2 separate regions of the Homo sapiens genome follow, and region 2 is linked to region 1. The links come from fine-mapping of genetic effects on gene expression. A gene starts in region 1. The other region holds a variant in brackets. All regions are shown on one strand. Distances are from middle to middle.

What was found. PIP is the estimated chance that this variant, and not a neighbour inherited with it, causes the effect.
Region 2: its variant is the best candidate, but not a certain one, in a credible set for the expression of TMLHE in minor salivary gland (GTEx, PIP 0.84).

What each region holds. Positions count from the first base shown.
Region 1 is chrX:155,611,708-155,614,629 of GRCh38, reverse strand. TMLHE (trimethyllysine hydroxylase, epsilon) reads left to right here and starts at 1,678. Exons shown (of 8, transcript NM_018196.4): 1 at 1,678-1,838. SPRY3 (sprouty RTK signaling antagonist 3) reads right to left here and starts at 2,044. Exons shown (of 3, transcript NM_001304990.2): 1 at 1,983-2,044.
Region 2 is chrX:155,426,937-155,429,858 of GRCh38, reverse strand. No RefSeq gene overlaps it. Among named protein-coding and RNA genes, the nearest start is that of MIR1184-3, 29 kb to the left of the region's middle. The variant G/C (reference allele first, on the strand shown) is at 1,188.

The DNA of each region.
Region 1 (2,922 bases):
TTATCTGCCATGTGATCCTGGTGAAAATTGCTTAACCTATCTGTGCCTCAGTTGCCTTATCCTTAAAGTAGAAATAATATCATCTACCTTAAGTGTTTGATATAAAACAAACACTTAGCCCAGTGTTTAGCATATAGTGCACATTTTATAAATGTTGGTTACTATTATTAAGGAAACTTGCTTCTTTTACTGACTCAAACAAACAGGTATTGTCTATCAACCTGTTGCCTTTTCTGAGTACTTTGTGTTGATTTCAGCTTAGCTTTAAGTGAGCTCATTCACTCTAATTGCTACAGTTATGATCTTCCTGTTACAGGACATTGGATCATGCTGTTCTTTCTGCCCAAAACTTTTTTTGTTTTCCCATTTGCCTGGCCAACTCCAATTTGTTCTTTAAACATAAGGGCATAAGGGCATGGACTATATCTGGGCTTTGTTTATCATTTTACACCCAGATCTTAGTACAGTGCCTGGCATACAGTAGGCACTCATTAATGTTTATTGCATGAATGAATACCAGCCAGACTAAATCTAGATTCTCATTGTACTTAGTTTTTCCTCTTTATGTTACATTCACACTCTGGATATGTCCTTTTGTTTACACACTGGTTCTAGAAATTTTTTAACAAATATTTATTAAATATATAGACATTTTAGACTCTGTGCTTGGAGAACAAATATGAAAAACACAAGTTTTCTGCTCTCAAGAAGCTACTTATTCATTAGAGGACAAAGACATGCAGAAAGAGAAATTATAATCTAGAGTAAGTGGTACTCTTGAGGCCTGTACGAGATCCATTGGGCATACTGGACCTAGGGAAAAAAAATATACAAACTTATCTGGGAAAGACAGGGAAGGCTTCACAGAGGAGGTGCTATCTAAATTGAGTCAAAAATAACGAGTAGCCGTTTTCCAAATAAACAAGTGCCGGGTAAGAGCATTCATGGCAGAAGGAATTCCAGGGCAAAGATGTGGAGGCTTTTTCTTCTTTTGTTGATCCTGACTTCTACAAACCAATTCCTTTATTGCTTTTTTGACATTAGATTAACACTTTTAATCTCGAATAAATATAATACTGCACAATTTCCCATTTTCAGTATATATGCATTTGATTTTTTTTGTTGTTCTTACTCTCATTTTTTAAATCTGCCTTGGATTTCCATTGCATATACTATTTCAGTATACTTTTTGGTCCTTCTTTGTAATATGTATCGTTCTTAAATTTTTACCTGCATAAGGTGTTCATTCCTAATGGGTATTCCCTTCTAGTGCTCACTGTATGTAGCACTGTATCTGGACCCTGGGTTCAAGATGCTCAGCTGAATCGATGGGAGTAATGAGCGGTATATGACTTCCATAAACTCAAGAAAATGGTGGAAAGGTAGTAGAATTTTACTTCTAGTAAACCTGGATAAACTACCATAAATAGAAGCGTAGTGGGAGGACTCGGGAGGAGCACTGAAATGGCAGGCAGGGGACCCAGGTTTTATAGCTTTATGGGCCTGTTTTTTCTCATCCCTGCACCTATAGCTTCAAGTATGTTCACTAAAGGCGATTGAATAGAGTGCCCCGGCCCAGTCCTTCCGAATGGGAGACTGACGCCCTAGCACCGGGCGAAGTCCCGGGCGCCAGAGGCACCCACCCTGCACGGCCGGAAGGAGTGGGGCGGGGCCTACAGGCTCTCCGCTGGGCCCGAGCGGGCTGGGGGAGGGGAGCGTGGGGCCGACAGTTTTGGGGGTGAAAAGGCAAAAGGCGGGTGAAAGGCTGCCTCCCGAGACTCTCCTTGCTTGGAATTCTGCCCACTCTGCGGAGTTAGCAGTCACGACCTCCAGCACAGGTGGGTTCCGTCCCGTGGGTCAGGGAAGGGGTGTCCCCATGGGTGCTACGGGTGGGTTTACCCAGGCGCTCGCTTTCAGGCCTGTCGCAGTGGGCGGCGGAGGCTCTCACCCGGGCTGCTGGGCCCAAGGGCGGTGGTACTCACCTTAACCCTGGCGGAGAGGAAGGCCACTCCTGCCTTGCCGCAGGGTTGTCGTCACGATCTGTGCCAGTTGCGCGACAGAGTCTGCCCGGAGATCAGCGTGAGGCCGGATGGGCCTAGCGCTCAGGAAGAGCTGGAAGAGCTGGAGCAAGCTCGCGTTGGGACTGACGCCCAGTGTACATTGTTTCAATCTCGGTCGGACTTTACAGCCCTGGATCTGTCACTGACTTGGTGTTTAGCTTTCAGCGAGTCCCTACCCTCTTCCTGCCTCACTTTGTTCGGCAGTAGAGTGGAAGGTGGAACTCAGCTGTCTGCAAGATCTTGCAGCACTTTCTTTCGTTCTCATATCCACTAATGTTCTCTGCCCAGATTTTACCCTTTGTCTGCCCCCTCTGGAGCAAGGCTCTGGGTAAGTAAGTTAGGCTAGGAAGTTTTCTTTCTCTTCCGAAAACAATGGAAAAGCCTTTAAATACTCCTGACTGCCCTGGAAACGACATTCAAACCATTAATTGAATGTCAACTCTGAAGAATGGGTTTGTGAATGCCATACTATTAAACGTTTTAACCAGATGATTGCCTAAAATGATGTGTGTTGAGTGGACATAGTACACTGCCTAGCAAAAGTCTCATGATAAATGAGTTGCGTGCTTTAACTCAGTCGCTGAAAGAAAAACTTGAGCTCTCATATTTAAGAAACACTTTCATAATCCACTCCCATACAGTAGTAGTCTTTTAGAGTTGCTTGTAGCTTGGTTTGCCCTTTCAGGACACACTGTAGTAAAAATTACATACAGTTTATTTTACATTAACTATAAAGACAAAGAAGGACTATAAACATTATGGATCAACATTTTGGTGTCAACTTCTGGTTTCTCCTCATTAAGGAACTGGTGGTAATGATAATGGTGAACATATATTTTGCAAAATACTATAATTTTCACAA
Region 2 (2,922 bases), 180 kb after region 1:
GAAATCACTTCCACTTTTTATGGTCATAAAGTCTCCAAGGAAAACTTTTGCCCAACTCCAATTGGTAGGACCAGTGAAAATGCCAACTGTGTGTCAGTCACAACTAGACAGGTAAGATGCAACTTCTCAGAGAGTAAGGTTATCGATAACTCTACATTCAAAAGTAAAACACACTGATTTTATCTGAGAAAGGAACAGATTGGATATGTAACTACCAGGACAAGGTAAATAAAATAAAAAATAAAGAAATTAGTCCTAGATGGTTTTCCTACACCATTTGGATCAGGAGAATTTTGATCTTAGTTACATGATCTTAATTTGGCCAATTTCTTTCCTTTCTTATAATACTAGCTGATGTTTATTAAACAGCTACTATGTGCCAGGTATGTTGCTTGGCACAGCATAAGCATTCTAGCCATTAATCTACATAATAACTCTATGAAGTAGTTACTATTTTTTAAACCATTTTAAGGATGAGGAAACAGAATCAGGTGGGTGAACTGATTCTTCTATAGCTCCATAGCTAGTAAGTGACAGAGGCCATTAATGACCTAGATGGGAGCTGGACTAAGGGATCTACCAGTTGGAAAGCTGGTAGATCAGTCTGTAATAGAAACTAAATATATAGCTTTCTGACTGGCCTTTATTTTGTCTTATTCTGTTTAAAAAAACACACTCTCCATCTTTACTTTCTCAATAGAAATTCACTCAGTCTTATTTCTGACACCACCAGCTTCACTGAGGTCATTAATGATGTCCATGTTGTTAAATCTGATGGACACTTTGATGTCTTTATCTGATCTAACTCCTTAGGATTATTTGACACAGCCTACCAGTCTACCTTTTTTTAAACACTCAATTCCCTTGGCTTCCATGGTTCCATGTCTCTTGATTTTCTTCTTGCCATTCAGTGTGCCCTCTCCCATTTTAATGAGCCACAAATATTATTGGCCTGTGTGTTATTCCTAATCATTTCCAGAGCCAGAGTACTCAGCTTGTCCATATAGTAAAAGCTTTGATTTCTGTAGTAATTGAATTTGAACATAGTTTTTTGCTTAACTTGTGCTGGGAATTACTATCTCCATGAAACATAAAGAAATAAAATTTTGTGGATATAATTTTTTAATAGTCATAGAGCAAGTAAATGACAGAGCTATAATTCACGGTTTTAATTTTTCATGTCTAAT[G/C]TATCTATCTAGCTATCATGAATCTGTCTATATCTTTTCAGTGTTCATTGAATAGAACTTCTAGATATCAGAGTAAAAAGAAACATTTTATTGAAAAGTTGTAAAATTCATTGATGGAAATGATAACACATTAAGGTGTACATCACATTTTTATTTCGTAATCTCCTCTTCTCTTCTCTTCTCTTCTCTTCATAAGAAACTCATGGATGAGTGCCAGGACCAAAACTGGTATCTGATATCTGTGAATAGTTGAGTATTTGGACCAGACCCATGTCCTGAGACATATAAGTAGCTTCTTGTGTCTTATAAGTGTAGACCAGGCAAGTTTCACAGAGGTATTTACAATTAAGAGGGGATTTATCAAAAAGGATTGTAGTCCTGCATAGTTTTGGACTCATTTCTAAGTGCTATATCTGTGTTTTCATGTTTATTAATTTTTAAATCAATGCATAATACCTTAAGCTGTATAACCCACAGACACAAAATACCTCTTGGTTACAGAGGTATTTTGTATTTTTTTTTACTTTTTATTATTTATTTATTTATTTATTTATTTATTATTATTATTATACTTTAAGTTTTAGGGTACAGTGTGCAGGTTAGTTACATATGTATACATGTGCCATGTTGGTGTGCTGCACCCATTAACTCGTCATTTAGCATTAGGTATATCTCCTAATGCTATCCCTCCCCCCTCCCCCACCCCACAACAGTCCCCAGAGTGTGATGTTCCCCTTCCTGTATCCATGTGTTCTTATTGTTCAATTCCCATCTATGAGTGAGAACATGCGGTGTTTGGTTTTTTGTCCTTGCGATAGTTTACTGAGAATGATGATTTCCAATTTCATCCATGCCCCTACAAAGGACGTGAACTCATCATTTTTTATGGCTGCATAGTATTCCATGGTGTATATGTGCCACATTTTCTTAATCCAGTCTAGCATTATTGGACATTTGGGTTGGTTCCAAGTCTTTGCTATTGTGAATAGTGCCACAATAAACATACGTGTGCATGTGTCTTGATAGCAGCATGATTTATAGTCCTTTGGGTGTATACCCAGTAATGGGATGGCTGGGTCAAATGGTATTTCTAGTTCTAGATCCCTGAGGAATCGCCACACTGACTTCCACAAGGGTTGAACTAGTTTACAGTCCCACCAACAGTGTAAAAGTGTTCCTATTTCTCCACATCCTCTCCAGCACCTGTTGTTTCCTGACTTTTTAATGATTGCCATTCTAACTGGTGTGAGACGGTATCTCATTGTGGTTTTGATTTGCATTTCTCTGATGACCAGTGATGAAGAGCATTTTTTCATGTGTCTGTTGGCTGCATAAATGTCTTCTTTTGAGAAGTGTCTGTTCATATCCTTCACCCACTTTTTGATGGGGTTGTTTGTTTTTTTTCTTGTAAATTTGTTTGAGTTCTTTGTAGATTCTGGATATTAGCCCTTTGTCAGATGAGTAGATTGCAAAAATTTTCTCCCATCTGTAGGTTGCCTGTTCACTCTGATGTTAGTTTCTTTTGCTGTGCAGAAGCTCTTTAGTTGAATTAGATCCCATTTGTCAATTTTGGCTTTTGTTGCCATTGCTTTTGGTGTTTTAGACATGAAGTCCTTGCCCATGCCTATGTCCTGAATGGTAATGCCTAGGTTTTCTTCTAGGGTTTTTATGGTTTTAGGTCTAACGTTTAAGTCTTTAATCCATCTTGAATTAATTTTTGTATAAGGTGTAAGGA